2 separate regions of the Homo sapiens genome follow, and region 2 is linked to region 1. Evidence: fine-mapped expression QTL. A gene starts in region 1. The other region holds a variant in brackets. All regions are shown on one strand. Distances are from middle to middle.

What was found. PIP is the estimated chance that this variant, and not a neighbour inherited with it, causes the effect.
Region 2: its variant is fine-mapped to the expression of NSMCE1 in whole blood (INTERVAL, PIP above 0.99). The same link has a PIP of 0.9 or more in skeletal muscle.

What each region holds. Positions count from the first base shown.
Region 1 is chr16:27,264,717-27,274,434 of GRCh38, reverse strand. It overlaps NSMCE1 (NSE1 component of SMC5/6 complex), which reads left to right and starts at 5,663. Exons shown (of 8, transcript NM_145080.4): 1 at 5,663-5,729. It overlaps NSMCE1-DT (NSMCE1 divergent transcript), which reads right to left and starts at 6,230. Exons shown (of 5, transcript NR_037184.1): 1 at 6,191-6,230. RefSeq lists an enhancer at 2,233-2,781 and a silencer at 5,690-5,769.
Region 2 is chr16:27,220,478-27,230,195 of GRCh38, reverse strand. KDM8 (lysine demethylase 8) reads right to left here. Exons shown (of 8, transcript NM_024773.3): 7 at 9,711-9,718; 8 at 8,428-9,630. The coding sequence ends at 9,466. It overlaps NSMCE1 (NSE1 component of SMC5/6 complex), which reads left to right. Exons shown (of 8, transcript NM_145080.4): 6 at 3,360-3,476; 7 at 4,350-4,470; 8 at 4,960-5,202. The coding sequence ends at 5,039. Among named protein-coding and RNA genes, the nearest start is that of KDM8, 22 kb to the right of the region's middle. RefSeq lists an enhancer at 7,116-7,801. The variant G/A (reference allele first, on the strand shown) is at 5,422.

The sequences.
Region 1 (9,718 bases):
TTGGCTCTCTTTTTGTTGTTGATGTTTAATTTTACCACATTGCGGTTTGTGAATGTGGTCTATAGATTCTTTGGAATTCATTTAAGCTTCCTTTGTGGCCCAGTACATAGTCAATTTCTGTAAAGAATAGATATACCAAAGTTTTTTTTTCTAAAATACAAGCCTGATCTCATCACTTACTTTTCATAAGCTTCTGTGGTCTTCGGGTGAAAGACCAACACCCTCAGCATATTATTTCCCGAAGCTTCCTCTCTAGCCAAGGCCTTGGCCCTCGCCTTGTGGTCAACAAATTTATGTACTCATAGCTCTCATGCATTTTAGGGTCAGCTTTGAGAAGTCTGAACCATCAGAGCTGTCCAGGAATAGAGAGTCCAAAGTCTGGCACTTCAAAGGCCCAATAAATACTCACAGAGCCCACTAGGGAATGAGCCGTCCTCTGAGTCATACTGAGGCAGGACTGTCACCCCATGGGGGACCACTCTGCATGATGAACTTCGATCCTTACTCACTACTTGTTCCTGCTGAACGAGATTCACCTCATAGAGGCCTCTGATTGCTGTACTGCTTCCATTTTAATTTGTCAGCACTTTCCCTTCTTTTTATTTTTGCCAGATCCATAGTGGATCACTTGACAGTAGCATTCTCCCGTCACTTGGCCTTCTATGAATCAGTTGCTTAACCCCAGCTAAGGCCCACTTCAGTATGAATCCAGGCTGAGCTTCTGCTCTGAAGCCCCCAGGATGGGGATGGGGGTGTTGAGGGAGGGATCAGATAACCAACTGTCATCTCTACACATTTCTGGTTTCAACCTCAGCTAGGAACTCATCTCTGCATTGTCGTCAGCGTCTCTTCCAAACCTTTTGATCCATTCCCCTTAAATCCCTTAGCATCTCCTCAGCACCTCCCAACCTTTTTTTGGGATAGGCTGGTGTGCAGTGGCACCATCCCTCAACCTTAACCTCAACTGTAGCCTCAACCTCCTGGGCTCTACCTCCCAGGCTCAAGCCATCCTCCCACCTCAACCTCTCAAGTAGCTGGGACTACAGACACATGCCACCACACTCGGCTAATTTTTAATTTTTTTTTTGTAGAGACGAGGTCTTGCTGTGTTGCCCAGGCTGGTCTCGAACTCCTGATCTCAAGCAATCCTCCCACCTCAGCCTCCCAAAGTGCTGGGATTACAAGTGTGAGCCACCACGCCAGGCCCTCTTCAGCCAAAGATTGATACTGTTTGCTACCTTACGGAGAAAACGGAAAACATCAGGAGTGAGCTTTTTTTAGCCACTTTCACCTCTTTTCCTGCTGTTTCAGAAGTGTCTCTTCTCTTCTCTAGGTTAACAGTAATCCTGTCGCTATACACCTTTGACCCCATCCCTTTTTGTCTGTTTTTTTTTTGGTGTTTTTTTTTTTTTTTTTAAGACAGAGTCTTGCTCTGTTGCCCAGGCTGGGGTGCACTGGCACAGTCTCGGCTCACTGCAACCTCCACCTCCTGGGTTCAAGACATTCTCCTGCCTCAGCGTCCAGAGTAGCTGGGACTACAGGTGTGCGCCACTACGCCCGGCTAATTTTTTGTATTTTTAGTAGAGATGGGGTCTCACTATGTTGGCCAGGCTAGTCTCAAATTCTTTTTTTTTTTTTTTTTGAGATGGAATCTCACTCTGTCACCCAGGCTGGAGTACAGTGGCTCGATCTCAGCTCACAGCAACCTCTGCCTCCTGGGTTTAAGTGATTCTTCTGCCTCAGCCTCCCAAGTAGCTGGGCCTACAGGCACGCACCACCATGCCCAGCTAATTTTTGTATTTTTAGTAGAGACAGGGTGTTACCATATTGGCCAGGCTGGTCTCGAACTCCTGACCTCATGATCCACCCGCCTCGGCCTGCCAAAGTGCTGGGATTACAGACGTGAGCCACCGCACCCGGCTGCCTGTTTTTATTTTATGGATTATTATCTCTGCTCCTATGTCTTCAAGTCTTCCCTTCTGAAGCCATACTTCCCAAAAGAGCAGTCAGCATTCCCTCTCCACTTCCTCAACTTCCACTCTTCACTCTTGGAGTTCGATCTGGCTTCCTCCCCTCTCTATTAAGATGGCCTTTGTTGGCCATCAAATTCTAAATCAGTGGCGCATCTTACTCGACCTCTCCAGAGCATTGACGATTCTGACCACACCCTCCTTCTCAAAAGTCTGTATTCCTATGTGCCTCTGATGCCACTTTCACAGCATGTGGTTCATGAATGTCACCTATAGATTCTTGAGAATTTCTTGAAGCTTCCTTTGTGGCCCAGTAATCAATTTCTGTAAATGTTCCAAGCATGTTTGAAAAGAATAGATATACCCAAGTTCTTTTTCTAAAATACAAACCTTCTCTCATTTCTTCCTGGTCTTCCATCACTTCTATGGTCTTCAAGTGAAAGACCAACCCCCTCAGTCTTGAATCTTTCTTTTCTTTCTACCTTTTTTTCTTGACGCTTTGATCTTGAAATGCTGGTGTTCCCAGCGTTTTCTATTCTTTTATCTCTCCACACACCAGGGAAGCACATGCTTCACAAAAGGGGACGGTCTCTCCCAAGTTCTGAACAAGTGCTGCCATGGGGGAAGGCTGGCCCACTGTCGTCAGACTTCCCCACTTTTCCAGAGCAGTCAGCTACAGTAGGGTTTTATGTGAAATGTCCCAAGTTTATTTATTTATTTTTGAGACAGAGTCTGGCTCTGTCACACAGGCTGGAGTGCAGTGATGCAATCTCAGCTCACTGCAACCTCTTCCTCCTTGGCTCAAGCTGTCCTCCCACCTCAGCCTCTTGAGTAGCTGGGACCACAGGTGTTCACCACCATGCCTGGCTAATTTTTGCGTGTGTGTGTGTGTGTGTGTGTGTGTGCGCGCGCGCGTATATATTTTTTTTGTAGAGATGGGGGCCTCACCATGTTGGCCATGGCTGATCTCAAACTTCTGAGCTCAAGCCATCCTCCCAGCTGGGCCTCCCAAAGTGTTGGAATTACAGGAATGAGCCATCATGCCCAGTCAAAGATTGAAAACCCCAACTTTAAATATTGATAATGAATAGAAAATTTCACAAAACCATGTAGGGCAAACAAAACACAAATATTACTCCTTAGGGCTTTATTTCCCCTCTTATTTGACTACCTATTAGGCAGTTTATAAAGAACTTATTAGTGGTGTTAGTTCACACTTATTGAGGGCTTACAATGTGCCAGAGACACTCTTCTAAGTAGTTTACGTTTACTCTTCCTTTAATCTTCAGAATAACATTATCAACAAAGTGTTATTATTAAACCTGCTTTATAGATGAGCAAACTGAAGCTGAAAACTTGAGCTCAGTCATCCCTTAGTATCTGTGAGGGATTGGTACCTTAGTCCCCATGGATACCAAAATTCTCGATGCTCAAGTCCCTTATGTAAAATCAAAACCACCTTTGTAAAAAGCATAACTGAGAAAATTATGATAGTGAAAGAGATCTGGCCTGACTCCATCTTGCTTCTAACTTCCAAGCTGTCCTTGATCATTCCTGGACATAGGTGGAATTAATGTTGGAAAGAACTTAGTTTATAGTTTAACTTTGAAACAAAGGCAATAATAGCCCTTTCCCAAAACAAATCCCCTCCTTGCCTAGGAACGGGTCTGCCTTTGTAGACTAACAAATTAGCTAAAAGATTAGAAATTATGGTTTAGGAGGTCACGCAAGCTGGAGGCTACAAGATTCTGACCCTCCCCAGATTGCTTCCGGGAGTAACATCACTGTTCTAAAACCTAAAATCAGTGCTTGAGATATTTTGCAGAACCCGTGTTCTAATGCACCAGCTGACGCCACCCAGCCCTGTAATCTGGCTAATCTGGTCCTATGGTCCTAACCCAGGATCTGACTCAGTGCAAGAGGACAGCTTTGACTCCTTTCCTCTCTGATCCAACCTATCAACACTCTCTAATCCCCAGCACCTCCAGCCACCAAATTATCCTTGAAAACCCTGAATTTCCAGGGAGACTGATTTGAGTAATAATAAAACTGTGGTCTCCTGTTCAGCCAGCTCTGTGTGAATTAAACTTTCTCTATTGCAATTCCCCTGTCTTGATAAATTGGTTCTGTCTAGGAAGCAGGCAAGGAGAACCATTGGGTGCTTACAAAATGCGAGAATACTTGCATTTAACCTACACAAATCCTCCAGTATATTGAAAATCATCTTTAAATTACTTACAATACTTAATACAATGTAAATGCTATATAAGTAATTGCTATGCTGTATTGCTTTCGGAATCTGTATTATTTTTATTGTTGAACTGTTATTTTTTACTGTTTTCCCCCACAAATATTAACCACCCACAGTTGCTTCAATCCGTAGATGGGGAACCTGTAAACATGGACAGCTGACTGTACTTTGTCCTATGTCTCAGAGACACTGAGTTTAAGGCCCAGGATTCCATGTTGACCATCCAGCTCCAAAGCTGAAGCTTTTAATCACCACACACCACTGCTTTCCCACTTAGCAGATGAAACTGAAGCCCAGAGAGGTTAAGAGGTTGTCCAAGATCACAGGGGTGGTGAGTGACCAAGCCTGGATTTGATCTATCCTCACAGAGACAGATATTTGCAGGTACTGCTGTTCTATATTAGTTACCTGTTTCCCTTGCTAGGCTGCATCCCTAGCTCTCAGACCAGGGATAGAATTCAAACGTTTGGAAAATTAACGCCTTGAAGACTCAAAGCAGTCCATTCACTTCCACGAGTAATTTCACTTGCTTTCTCACAATCCCTAGGTAAGATAACAGTTAACATATAATCAGCACTCCCATGTGACACTTTTCAATGGCCATGCTAAGCACCTGATATAGGTGTTATTATCTCTTGTAAATCTCACCAACACTATTTTGCAAGAACTAATATCCTCATTTAATGGAAGAGGAAACTGAGGCTCAGTGACTTGCCCAAGCGCCTGCCAACTAGTAAGTGGCAGAGCCAGGATTCTAGATCAGGCTCTATGACCACAGAGTCCACATTTTTCTTTTCTTTTTTTTTGAGCTCTGTCACCCAGGCTCGAGTGCTGTGGTACGATCTGGCTCACTGCAACCTCTGCCTCTCGGGTTCAAGTGATTCTCCTGCCTCAGCCTCCCGGGTAGCTGGGATTACAGGCACACACCACCACGCCCGGCTACTTTTTGTATTTTTAGTAGGGACGGGGGTTTCACCATGTTGGCCAAGCTGGTCTCGAACTCCTGACCTCAAGTGATCGGCCCGCCTTGGTCTCCCAAAGTGCTGGGATTACTTACAGGCGTGAGCCACCGCGACCGGACCAGAGTCCACATTTTTGACGTCGAGGCCACACTCAGTTCCACAGATGGGGAAACTGAGGCCCGGGGCAGGGCACTACATTGTGCCAGCGGAATGGTGGCCATTGAGGGAAGCCCAGGCTGCACGCCAATTCTTCCTCCTTGGTCAGGGAAGTCACTGAGGTGCAGGAGGCGGAGGGCGACAAGTGGAAGCCCCTTCCCATTATTAAGGATCGAGAGCGGGCGTAATTTGGGATCTAACCCACGAGGCGGAACCACCAGGGCAATGGCGCAAACGGAGAACCGGAAGTGCGTCACTCAACGGACGGGCGAATAAGCCGCAGGCCACCAATGGGAACGCCGCGTTCGCGTTCGCCCCGCCTCAAAGGAAGAAGAGTCCACCTTGCGACCGTATCCGCTAGCGCGGCCTGGGATGCGCTTGGGCTCCCTGGTGGGTAACGTGGGGAGCTAGGGGTTGGAGGGGAAAGAAGAGGGACTTCAAGGAAGGCGAGGGGAGGACGGAAGGTGGGGTGGGCGAGACAGGCAGTGGGGTCCGGCCCCGGGGTCGGTCCCCGTGGGCTGTGGAACTCGGGGACTGGGGTCTTGGGGTTTCCCCCTTCTTGATGGGGAAACTGAGGCCCAGACAGGGGCCGCAGAAAACAGCGGACTGGGATGTCCTCCCGCAACACACACGCAGACATCTAAAAATCTTACTATTTAGTGAAAAATATTTTTAATCGTAATTACGATTTAACAGGTAAAGATACTTTTCATTGTAACAGGTGAAAAAGCAAAATATAAAATTCGATTCAAACTGTGATTACATCTATGGAAAATACAGCCTTTGCCGACCACCCTCTTTGTCCCGCCGCCCTCCGTGCTCCCCTCTGTTTTGTGTACGGAGTTTCTTACTTTGTACAAGTCCGCAGCCGCTTATGTTACAGCCCCGAGGCCAGATGCGTTTAAAATCGAGGAGTTCTCGGAGTTTGGAAAGGTAAAGTCCCTATGTTCTATGTTAGGTTTCACCCTCAGAGGGGGCTGGAGCAGCGGCTTGTAATCAAATACACGACCCTTTCCACAGCTAAAGTTATGAAGATACGCATATATTACATTGACCTGGTCGCGGTGGCCCACGGCTATAATTCCAGCACTTTGGGAAGCTGAGGGGGGCGGATCACCTGAGGTTCGGAGTTCGAAACCAGCCTGGCTAATATGGTGAAACCCTGTCTCTACTAAAAATACAAAAAATTAGCCGGGCGTGGTGGTGCGTGCCTGTAATCCCAGCTACTCGGGAGGCTGAGACGGAAGGCTGAGGCAGGAGAATCGCTTGAACCCGGGAGGCGGAGGTTGCAGTGAATCAAGATCGTGCCACTTCACTCCAGCTTGGGCAACAAGAGCGAAACTCCGTCTCAAAAAAAAAAATGCATATATTTACACTGTTGGGATAAATAACCATAAATAGCCTCACCTTAAGTCAGGTCAAGTTTTCCAACTTAAACAAGTTTTGGTATTCAGACTTTTTTTTTTTTTTCCCCTGCATCCGATCATCCACTAGTATTCATACCTTTTTAGATTTGAGGGTTGCAGATGAGGGACCTGGATTGTAGTTGTTCTGTTCACTCACTTTTCTCACTCTCGCTGGATAGAGAGTGTCCTTGAAAACAGGAACTGTGCTGTTGTATGGTCACGTCTATCTCTGCCACCAACTCTTGTGTGTCACCTTGTGCCCTCTTAGTCTCAGTTTCCTCATCTGTAAGATGGGGTCAGTGACCCTTTGCTCATAAGGTTGTTCTGGTTTGGGTTAAATGAGGTCGGGCATGTGAAGCACTAGAATTGTGTTAGCACCCGCACGAATGGTATGACTGAGATTTACTTATTCCACAAACATTTCTATTTTAAAATTATTAAATTTAAATAAATTGATTTAATTAATGCATTTAATTAATTTAATAATAAATTTAAACGTATAGATGTATTTCTTAAAATGTGGGTGATAGGAATTTTAAAGATTTATATAATGCTTCAAAAGCCTTCGAAAAGGTTTTTTTAATTGGTTTATCTGTATATATGAACTCTTGAAACTTATGGCTAAAACACTAGGATTTATCTGCAAGGTTGCAGAGAGATAATTCTGCCTTAAATTGGCTAAAACAAAAACAAAACCAGCCAACCTATATTATACATGGGATTAAAACCAATTTTTCTCCCATTTTTTTTCTCCTTTTTTCTTTTGCTGCCCACATTATGCCTTATTTTATGAGCCCCAGTTTTCTGGGCTTAGTTAAAAAAAATTCAGTTCTAAACATTGAATTTAGGGAGTTTTTGTTCTTGAATAAAAAGGCATATACTTAGAAAAAAAATCTGTTTATCCGGGAAAATATATTGAAATCATGCTGCTGAGCCTCTATTTTCTTTGATGTTTTGGTTCTGTATTATTTTATCATAACTTTTTAGCATTTAAAAATTTACTGATGTACATTTAAAGCCAATAAACTGTTTTAATTAATTTTTTTAAAAAAAGTAATTTTTTTTTTCTTTTTGTGACAGAGTCTCGCCCTGTCGCCCAGGCTAGAGTGCAGTGACGCGATCTTGGCTCACTGCAACCTCCACCTCCTGGGTTCAAGCGATTCTCCTGCCTTAGCCTTCTGAGTAGCTGGGATTACAGGCGTGCACCACCACGCCTGGCTGATTTTTGTATAAAATAAAATTATTTAAGTAGGTAATACATGTCTATGCTAATCCCACCATTCTCCCTACAGTCTCTTCTCATAGAGACAAGGGACATAATATGCATAAACAAGCTTATGGTTGTCTTTCTTCCACTCCTACTTTTCCCACTCCTTTTCCACCAAATTATAGCATTCAATCCTATCCTGTTCTCATTCTCATTTACATTTATTTTGGCTGTTATTTAACATATTCACATTATTTTGTTGTTGTTGTTGTTGTTGAGAGTGGATCTTGCTATGTTGCCCAGGCTGGTCTTAAACTCCTGGCCTCAAGCAGTCCTCCCGCCTTGACCTCCCAAAGTATTGAGATTACAGGTGTGAATCACCATGCCCAGCCCATCACATTTAAAAACATTGTATGTAACATACCTATACAATTGTGTGGAAGTGTAAGTTTGAAGAACAAAAATAAAATGAACACTCATGTACCTGCCACCAAGTTAAGAAATAGACATTTTCAGATTGCCAGACCCTCCACTGAATCCTTTCTTCCCTCCTCAAAGATAACCACCGCCCTGAATATTGTGTTACTTGTTGCCTTGTTTTGCTTTGTAGTTTTTACCATGTATGTGTGTATTTCTAATGAATGAATGTATGCTTTTGCTGAGTTTTCGATTTTATGTAATAGGATCCTAAAATATATTTTGTGTGACTTGCTTGTTGCACTTAACATTATCTTTCTGAGAAGTATGCGTGTTGATGTGAGGAGCTCTACTTTGTCTTCATTGCTGATTTGAATTCTATGGGATGATTATATTGTTTTAATGTAGTTCTTCAGTTGGTAGGCATTTATACTGTTGCCAGACTTTTGTTATTACAAGGTGCTTCTGTAAAAACATATCTCCTAGGGCAAATGTGGAAGTTTCTGTAAGGTATATACCTAATAGTAGATTTCGGGGGATATGCAAATTTGCTAGTAATATCAACTGTTATCTGAAATGGTTACAATAATTTATACTCAGCCTGGAGTGGTGGCTCACACCTGTAATCCCAGCACTTTGGGAGGCTGAGGTGGGTGGATCGCTTGAGTCCAGGAGTATGAGACCAGCTGGGGCAACAGGTGAGACCCCATCTCTACAAAAAATACAGAAATTAGCCGGGCATAGTGGTGTGTGCCTGTAGTCATAGCTGCTAGGGGGTTCTGAGGTCAGAGGATCGATTGAGCCCACAAGGTCAAGGCTGCAGTGAGCTATGACTGTGTCACTTCATTCCAGCCTGGGCAACAGAGTGAGACCCTGTCTCAAAAAAAAAAAAAAAAAAAAAAAAGGAAAAGAATTTATACTCTCCCAGCAGCAGATGAAAGTTTCAGCCTCAGCCATTCTTTTAAAATTTTTGCCTGTCTGGTGGTGGCTAAGACATTCCTTCACTGTGGTTTTCATAATCATTTGTCTGATAACATTGAGATTGAGCATCTTTTTTCTGTATTTATTCATCATTTATGCATCCTCTTTTTGTAAAATTTCTGTTGCCCATTTCTCTTTTACAGTTGTGTTTCCCATGCTGATTTGTAGGAATTCCTTATATAGTCTGAATATGAATCTTTTGTATTTTGTAGCTTATGTTTGTTTTAAATGCCCTCCAGTTTGTATCCCCTAACCCCCACCTTTCTGGTATTTTTGGTGAATAGAGGCCCTTAATTTTAACAAAAGTCAAGTTTATCAGTATATTCCTTTATGACCTGTACTTTTTATATCTCTTAAAGAAATCCTTC
Region 2 (9,718 bases), 44 kb after region 1:
TCCAGGAGAAGGCCCAGGGGTGGTAGGTGGTTGGGGTCAGCGGGGAGGCCTCTGAGAGCAAGCGCGGCTCATGGGAGCTGGGCGTCTGCTGATCGGCGCACCTCCATACACCCCAGGACTGCTCCCTACACGAGGTCCTGACTTCCAAGTGTTGTGGCGAGGCGCCTGGGAGATCACCTGGGCTGTCGTCGTCTTTGAGGGCTAGGGCATCCCTCCTGCCCCTCCCCTGATGGGCCCTCAGAGGACTGAGTGGGTCATGAATGGTGAGCCTTGGGTGCAGTTTCAGGCACATAGCAGGTGTTCAGTAAATGCAGCTTGGCTGGGTGCAGTGGCTCAAACCTGTAATTCCAGCATTTTGGGAGGCCAAGGCGGGTAGATCACTTGAAGTCAGGAGTTTGAGACCAGCCTGGCCGATATGGTGAAACCCTGTCTCTACTAAAAATATAAAAAAGTTAGCTGGGTGTGGTGGCGGGCATCTGTAATCCCAGGTACTCGGGAAGCTGAGGCAGAAGAATCGCTTGAACCCTGGAAGCAGAGGTTGCAGTGAGCTGAGATCGTGCCATTGCATGATCTAGCCTGGGCAACAAGAGCGAAACTCTGTCTCAAATAAATAAATAAAAAATAAATGCAGCTCCTGCCTCAGTCTGAGCTTGAACTTGCTTAGTGTCAGGCATTCCTTTGGGATCAGTGCAAGGTCTACTTCATCTTCCCGTGGGTGTTTATCACAGGCCTGCCAAGTGCTGGGCCCCACAGCAGGTGCTGCGGACACAGGAGTGAGCACAGCCAGAGCTGGTGGCCGCTCCCATGGGGCCATGGTCTGGAGGGGGAGCCCGAGATCAGTGAGACGGTCATCTCACTGCAGTCCTGGTACAGATGGAAAGGAAACATGGCTTTATGACAGCTGTCCCAGAGGAACCGGCCCTCAGCTGCTGAGGAAGTGACACTTGAGCTGAAGGCTGTGTGGGAGTTGCCTGGAGCCTGGGGTGGGAGGATCATCAGCCCGGCAGTGGCCCTGTGGCCAGCAGGTGCACTCAAGAAGCTAAGGCCAGGGCCATCTGAGCACAAAGATTGCGAGGCGAGCAGACGGAGGGCAGCCCGGGAGATACGCGTATTAGGGGCTTGGCTCTTGGACCTAAGGGTGGTGGGAAGCCCTGGGGTGGGGGTGAGTTGGGAGTGACAGGGCCAGGCTTGTTCGGTAGCGAGTGCGTTGCTGGAGGAGAGTGGGCTCAGAGAGCAGCAGGAGCAGGGGAGGGTGGAAGAGGGTGGAGGCCGGGGAGGTGGGTTGCCATGATGGATCTGTAGGGGAGGGTGGAAGAGGGCGGTGGCCGGGGATGTGGGGTACCATGATGCATCTGGAGGGGAGGGCGGAAGAGGGCGGTGGTTGGGGGTGTGGGGTGCCATGATGGATCTGGAGGGGAGGGTGGAAGAGGGTGAGGGCTGGAGAGGTGGAGTACCATGATGGATCTGGAGGGGAGGGTGGAAGAGGGTGGTGGCTGGGGATGTGGGGTGCTGTGATGGATCTGGAGGGGAGGGTGGAAGAGGGTGGGGGCTGGAGAGGTGGGGTACCATGATGGATCTGGAGGGGAGGGTGGAAGAGGGTGGTGGCTGGGGATGTGGGGTGCTGTGATGGATCTGGAGGGGAGGGTGGAAGAGGGTGGGGGCCAAGGAGGTGGGGTGCCGTGATGGATCTGGAGGGGAGGCTGGAAGAGGGCGGTGGCCAGGGAGGTGGGGTGCCATGATGGATTTGGGAGCTTTGGGGGAAGGTAACAGCCATAGGACTGAGGACCGAGGACAGCCTGGGGGCTGGTCACATCCTCCCATTGCCCACAGCACTTGGATGACACAAAGCCCCTGTGCACCAGCAACAGCTGCGGTGCAGGGCACAAGCACCTGGTGCCCCGGCCTCCCTCCACTGTTCCCGCAGCGGCTGTCCATGCCCCAACCCCACGCTTCTGCCCTGCCTTCCTTCCTGTGCTCACCCAGCTCCTCTACTGGTGTTCCAGAGCGAACGCACTGTGAGCCCAGATTACGCAAGCACACCCCTCCACATTGCACTGTGGGGATGAAGGTGGGAATGGGGTGGGGGGCTCTACCTGTCAGAAACGGGAGTGGGCTGGGTGCGGTGACTCACGCCTGCAATCCCAGCACTTTGGAAGGCCGAGGTGGGCGGATCACCTGAGGTCGGGAGTTCAAGACCAGCCTGGCTAACATGGTGAAACCCTGTCTCTACTAAAAATACAAAATTAGCCAGGCGTGGTGGCGCATGCCTGTAATCCCAGCTACTCAGGAGGCTGAGGCAGGAGAATTGCTTGAACCCGGGATGCGGAAGTTGCATTGAGCCAAGATTGTGCCATTGCATTCCACCCTGGGCAACAAGAGCAAAACTCCATCTCAAAAAAAAAAAAAAAAAAAGAAAAGAAAAGAAACGGGAGTGACAGCTCTTGCTTGTAAAAATTAAAAATTAGAAAATAACAGAAAAGGCAGTTGAGCACTCGGGTGACTTGCAGGCGTCAGTGACGTCATCTCCTGGTGTGGTTCATATCCGATGCATGAGCTGACTGTGGAGAAACTGGAATCAGCCTGCATGGGTCCATGTCCTGGGTCCCGTGTCATTTGCCTGCCTTGGGTCTCCCTCAGTGCTGCCTTTCTCCTGTGACCTGGCAGTAGGGTCGGCCTGGGGAGCTGCATTGTTCTTGTGCTTCCGGGCTCTCCCAGGGATTTCAGGATGCATGATGGGTGGACCGCACCCTGGCATGGGAACCAGGAGGCCTGGCTTCCACTGGAGGCTCCACTGCCCACAGTGTGATGGGGCCTGTCTGCCCTCTCCAGACTCCTTCCAGCTCCATCTGTAAAGTGATGTGGCTGGAAGTGATCTCTGAGGGTCCCTACTGCAGTTGGAGGCAGAAGTGCTGGGAGGCAGAAGTGCTGGGAGGCACCAGGGATGCTGCTTTTTGGGAGTGGGATGGGTGGCGGATGGCAGCAGTGGGTGTTTGGGTTTGCACCCTGGGGAGACTGACCCCCTTGTGGGCCTCAGCGTCCTCATCTGCAGGAGGGCTGTGACTGCCTCCCTCGAGGCTGCCGTGCAGACAGAGAAGTCACGTCTGAAGGCACAGCAGATGCTGAGAAAAGGCGGGTGTCAGGGAGCCACGCCTCCATGTCTTTAGGGTCTTTGCCTCAGTTTCCCTTGCCGAGGCTCTGCCAGGGGGATGTGGCTGATGCCCGTTGGCTGGGGTTGGTGAAAAGCTGCGTAGACCCTTGTGTCTTCCTGAGCACTGGGCTGTGGGATCACAGAGGGAAGAGAGGTGGTGAATGGGGAGAGGGCCTGGCTGAGGGTGGCCACCTCCTGTGTGTCCCTGCAGAAGGAAGGGGAGTTCACCCTGCACGGCCGGGCCATCCTGGAGATGGAGCAATACATCCGGGAGACGTACCCCGACGCGGTGAAGATCTGCAATATCTGTCACAGCCTCCTCATCCAGGTACCCGCAGGGCAGGGCACGGGAGCTCATCACTGGGCCCTCGGCTCCCGGGGCTCTGTACAGGTACTTCCCGGAATCCTGGCTCTGGGCCCAGCCCTCCTGCACTGCTGGCGCATCCTCCCACAAGAGCTGGCGGAGGCCATCTCCCAGGACGTGTCAGGACGCCTCCCTGCTGTGCCCCGCAGGGACGCACTGCCGCCCTCCTCCCTGGTTCTGCTGTTGGGGTCCAAGGGCCCTCGCTTACTTTATTTTTCTCAGGAAGGCTGAGTGTTCTGTGCAACCTGCATCATCTTGGTAGTTTTGTAGTGAGTGTCTCTTGTCGATTGCTGCTTTCTGGAGTGGTCTTAACACTGGTTTGCAGGGCTTTGCAACCGCTGAACCAGCGTGGACATTGATGTGTCTTTCAGTTTCTATCGTTTTGCAGCTGTAGCTGTTTGTAATTGCAATTGCTCTTACGGGCCTCGTACACCTGTATCCTTGGGCACCTGGTGATTATTTCCTTGGGCGGAGTTTCTGGGACAAAGTGCACTTTTTTTTTGAAAGCTTTTGATTCACATTAGCAAATAAGCTTCTGAAAAGCTGTGGCTGTCCACACGCCACCTGCAGGATCTGAGTGCAGGAGTTTGGGAGCCCTCGGCTTCTGTCACTGCGTTCATGTGTTCAGAATTGTTTAGTAAAACCCACCGCAACAAGCAGCAAGCAAACAAAAGACTCCACTGCACTAAGGCGTTTGGGATTATTTTCAATATTAATCTGGGGCCCAGAAGATAACACGATGCCACCTGCTGCCCATTTCCCTTGTGGCTTCCCCGGAGGTTTGCAGAACATGGAGGTGTGCACCAGCTCCGCCGTCATTGGCCTTTCCTGTTTCAGGGTCAAAGCTGCGAAACCTGTGGGATCAGGATGCACTTACCCTGCGTGGCCAAGTACTTCCAGTCGAATGCTGAACCGCGCTGCCCCCACTGCAACGACTACTGGCCCCACGAGATCCCAAGTGCGTGGGCCCTGAGGAGCTCATGGGAGGGGCTGGGCCAGCAGGACGTGGGGCCTGGTGCCAGGGAAGCCCTTGGAGACAGGGCCCTGAAGGGCTCCAGGGTGTGTGGGGGTCCGTGTTAGCAGCTTGAATCCTAGAAGAAGCCACTGCAGGAAGTAAAGGCTGAGCTACGTGCACCGCTCCAGAGGACTTTCTAGAACCCAGCTGAAATTCCAACGTGTATGAGCATTTTGTCTAGACAAGGCTCTCTCTCTGGCAGCCCTCTCAGGAGGGGGACGTGAAAGCTATGTCCACAGCTCCCTCAGTTTGTTCCTCTCTGAACTGGGGCTAACTCTGCCTTCCTCACGGGCTGGGGAGGGTTAGCAGTGAAGGATGGTGTAGACCTAGGACAGTCCTTGGCACAGGAGACGTAGCTGCTGGCTCCAGCTGGTGCCCCTGTGCTGCCAGCCCCTCCATTCACTGTGTCTTTCCTGCCTTTTCTGTCTACAGAAGTCTTCGACCCTGAGAAGGAGAGGGAGTCTGGTGTCTTGAAATCGAACAAAAAGTCCCTGCGGTCCAGGCAGCATTAGCCATCGTGCCCTGCTGAGGGGCTGGCTGCCTTGAGTGGCCTGATCGCCACAGCCCTTCTTGGAAGAAAGGCGTCCGTGTTTCAGGTTCCACGCGAGTCACCTCTTTCGTCTTAATGTTCACCGTCCACAGCTTTGGAATAAACCATCCTGGGAAGTTGCTGCAGCCCGTCTGTGTTCTCGAGCCCGTGTGTGAGGCTCCGTGTTGGGGCCTTGCCTTTCCTGGAGTTCGGTCGTCACTCAGACCCCCTGGGTTTGGGCTCCAGCAGGTGAAGCCAGCAAGAGCCCCCAGCAATGACTCAGAACAGCTCACTGTCCTTGCCCAGGGCAGCCTTGCCTCCAGTCCCAGCGGTGGCCAGCTGTCCCAGCAGGACTGGGCTGGCCC[G/A]AACCTGGATGTGTGAGCCTTGGCCTCCCCAGCTCCCCAGTCTGGACTCTCCCCTGGCCCAAGGTGCCACTGGCCTGAATGGGCTGAGGCTGGGCGTTTGGGCGGGATGCGTGCTCTCCCTCCCTGGACGCTCTGCTCCCTGTGGGTGCCCGGCAGCCCTGCCATCCAGCTGTCCCAGCCGGGACTGGGAGTCAGCCTCAGTGCTTCCTCTCCCTGACCCTCCTGCATCCCATTGTCACCAGATCCTGTCCAGCCCAGCTGCCAATAGCCCTCTAGCCCTGCCACTGCTGCCTCAGGCTGAGCTCCAGCCCCGGCCCACACTCTGCCTCTGTGCTCCCTGCAGAAGACCCCTGGATGCCCCCACTGCTGCAGCAGGGCTGTGACCCCTGGTGAGGCTCCTGCTCATCTGCCACCGCCTCCCCCCACCCACTGCTCAGGGTGCAGCGCTTCCTTCGTCAGCTCCGGAGCCTCTACACAGAGCGCCCTGGGCCTGCGCGCCCTCCCCTCTGGTGTCTGGCTTTGTTTCCTGGCTAGCACCCGCTCGCCCTTTGGCACTGGTCAGCCCCTCGCTCCCTGCACTTCCTCCATCCTCACACTTGTTAAGTCCCCATCTTCATCCCTCTCTTGAACCCCAGCATCAGTCAGGATGCTTCAGTCATGACAGAAAAGCCAACTCAGACTGGCTGAAACAAGGACGGACTTGGCCACAGGGGTCTTGAGGAGATGCCTGGTCTAGAGGCTCCAGCAAGGTCACCACACAGCCATATTTCTGTGTCTACTGTGCTTTCACTGGGCTGGCTGCATGCTTGGGGCCTACGAGGTGGTTTCCTAGAAATCCAGCTGCCTTCTTCATGGTAGCAAAATAGCTGCCATGCCTCTGGGCCTCGCGCATCATGCCTGGGATCAGGAGGAAGAGGGTGGCTCTCACTTAGTGGCTCCCACATCCTTGCAAGCATCCTCATGGCCCACAGCTCCCACGTGGACACCTGTGAGGTGGGGATGGGATTATCCAGCTGGCATTGGAAAATTAGACCCACCTCGGAGAGAGGGGTGGGACTGTCCCTCTCAGGCCACGTGGCTGAGGGAGCAGGGGCCTTTCCCTAAGCATATCGAAGGTGCGATCACATCTTCAGTAGCCTCAGGGGCAGCAGGGAGTGAACTTGGACACTGAATTGGTGGCTGGCCTCCCCCGCTGCAGGCAGGACCACCCCACTTTGTTCACCTCCATAAACCCAGGGTGGAGCAGGCATCCAAGGCTCAGTGAACCAATGACCCCTGCTGGTGGGAGGCTCACCCTCCCAGAACCAGGTCTGGGCTCCTCAGCCCTCAAGCCCACCTTCCCATAGTGAGGCAGCCGGGGACCCAGCCCAGCCCTTCGTCAGTGGGCAGAGACACGCCCATTGGTAAGCCCAGTACGTTCAGCCACTGCCAGCCCCGGCCGGCCTCACCTAAAGAGGGGTTTTTTGGAAACGTATGAGGTGGCTTGCAGAAATGACAGGAAGGCAGGACCAGTCTAGAATGGGAGACCTTGGAATAAGGGTCATGGATGTCAAGACAATTCTGTCACTGCGGGCGCTGCTGCCACAGGGGGTCGGCTCCAGCCTGTCTGAGCTCCTCCCGACACGCCCTCAAGATGCCGGTCCAGGGAGGAGCTGATGTACAGACCTTCCAGGACCGCATCCCTGGGGCAGAGGTCATTCTCCAGAATGCAGTCAGCTTGCCGTTCTGGAAGACGGGAAGATGGACGCCAGAAGGCAAAAAGCCAACTAGCAAATAATGCCTGCAGGAGGGGCCGGGGCAGCTCCGGACTGTCCCAGTTGTCCTGTGGTTCTGGCTGTTCATTCTTTGAGCTCGAGTCAGTCCTGGCTGGGGACTCAGGAAGCCTCTGGGCACTTGGCCACTGGGGACACCAGCCCTCCTGCTGCTTGTCTCTCTTGCCTCCAACCCCTGCATGATAACACCGACATGAACGTCCCACAACGCACACTAGCACTCACTCAAAACCCTCATGAGGAGTTCCAGATGCTGCGTGTCCTCACCCACAGGGCAGGACATTTCCCCTTTTCCCATTCCTCATCTGACAAGGGACATCTGCTTGAAGCCACCTGGCCAGGATACCACACGTTAATGAACGTGGCCTCCCGTGCCCAGCTTTCTGTCACGCTACACTACAGATGGGCCGTGGGGCTTGCCAGCTGGAGCGGCTAGGCACTGGGAGCTGGGGCCACAGTCCACCTGTCCTTCAGCTGGGGAAGGGGTTTGAGTTACACAGGCGGGCCAGGAGTCACAGCCCACTGTGGCCGGGCCGCCACCCCTCCTCACTAATGGCGAACCTAGTCATGAGGGCGTCCCTGTTTTATGCCTCGCTACTTTCAGGGGTGTTGACATCTGGTGTAAATTCTTCCTGTGAAAGATTAGGTAATTCACTATTAACCATGGCAGGGAATAAACAATGTCCTTGCAAACAGCTGCCCACGGAGCCAAGTGGACTCAGCTTCCAGATAGCTCTTGTGTTTGTCACTCCCCAGCACGCCCATGGCCCCTCGGCAGCCCACTCCCAGGATGAGTATCACGGCCTCTCCCTGCCAACAGCCAGCTTTCGAGAATGCAGATTCTGCTGTGTCTGCTCAAAGGCTGAGAACCCCAGGACCTACACGATAAAGTCAAATTCCTTGGCCTGGGTAGAGGGCATCAGGAGCTGGAGTTCAGCTGCCCACAGCCACTTTCCCATCCCCCTTCTAGTTACCCCAGGGTAGCTACCTCCTGGCCAACCAGAATCTTTCCTGGGGCTGCTTGATTTTTGGCTAAAAGACAAGCAGCTGAGCCAGTGGCAGGATGCTGGCAGGATGGCAGCTCAACCCTCAGGGCTCTTTTCCCCAGGCCTATCTTAGAAGCGGGGAAGAAAGAAGCCAAGGCTGGCATGTGGCTCACACCTGTAACCCCAGCACTTTGGGAGGCCAAGGTGGGAGGATTGCTTAAGCCCAGAAGTTCAAGACCAGCCTGGGCAACATAGCAAGATCCCATCTCTATTTAGTTTAAAAAACAAAAAACAGAGGGCTGGGGAAAATCTTAATGGCCAAAACATAAAACAAACCTGCGTGCACACAAACGAGACACAATTACAGAAAGCATAGAGCCTGGCTCTCCCCCTGGCCTCAAATCCCCCAGGTTTGAGAGTCATTACTTCTGGGGGATGGTGACTAGAAGGTGGTAGGAGGGAGGCTTCTAGGAGCTGGTGATGGTTCGGTGGTTTCTTCACTTGGGAGCCTGCTCCTGGGTGAGTGCGGGTGAAAAGTCATCCAGCAAGACCTTCGCACTTCTCTGCAGGCAGGTAGGTTATCCTTGAGCCATGGGGATGACAGAAAGCTCCCACTGCTCAGCAGGGGTCCCGGCTCCTGCGCAGGTCTCTACGGACTCTCTCCTGTGACCTGGGCAATGCCCAGCTCTCTCCAGTATTCAGGCTGTGGCGTCCAGCAGGCCGTTATGGGAAGGAAGGGCAAAAGGATCAGAGTAATTGGGATCAGTGACAGCGGCTAAGGTTCATGCAGCAGCAGGGGCTCGGCACCGCCTTCTCGGCCCTCGGCAGTGAGGACTGGCCTTGCCCTCTTTTCCATATGGGCACAGCGAAGTGGGGGATCCTGGCCAAGTCACCCAGCAGGTGCACAGCGCGGCCGGGTTTGAATCAGGTAGCCAACCTCAGAGCCCATGTTTCACCCCTGCCTGTGTGACCCACCCGTTTCCCAAAAACATTCGGCTTTCTGATGCCAGAGTCCCCATGCAGGCTGTCTGTCTGCAATGTCCTTCTGGGCTCTCCCCACCTTCCTCTGCCATGCACCCCTGGCCTGGAGTGTGCTCCTTCCTGGGCAGCCCCTGCTCTGTGCCTGTCCAGTGCTGGAGCTCAGCCCCCCAGGGCTGCCACTGGGCAGTGAAGGCTCTTCAGGACACAGGTTCAGTCCTGCTTGTCTCTATAGATTCCAGGACCCAGGAAATTAGTGAACAGATGAATGCTGTCTGCATGTCAGGCCCTTTCAGCTCCTATCCTGGCTACGACCACCAGAAGCTGACCGAGAAGCTCAAATCCAGAGCCCGCACGTAATGCCAGTATTTCACCGGGATGAACAGGATCTCTCCAGGAGACAGGATGCAGGACAGGAATGGGGCCTTGGCAAACTTGGGGAACTTTTCCAGGTCGGGATTCTCCACGTCAACCTGAAGAAAGCAAAGGACGTCATCATCTCCAGGGGCAGTGGGGAGAACCTGCAACGTCACCCCAGACCCCCAGTGCCCACCTGGCTCG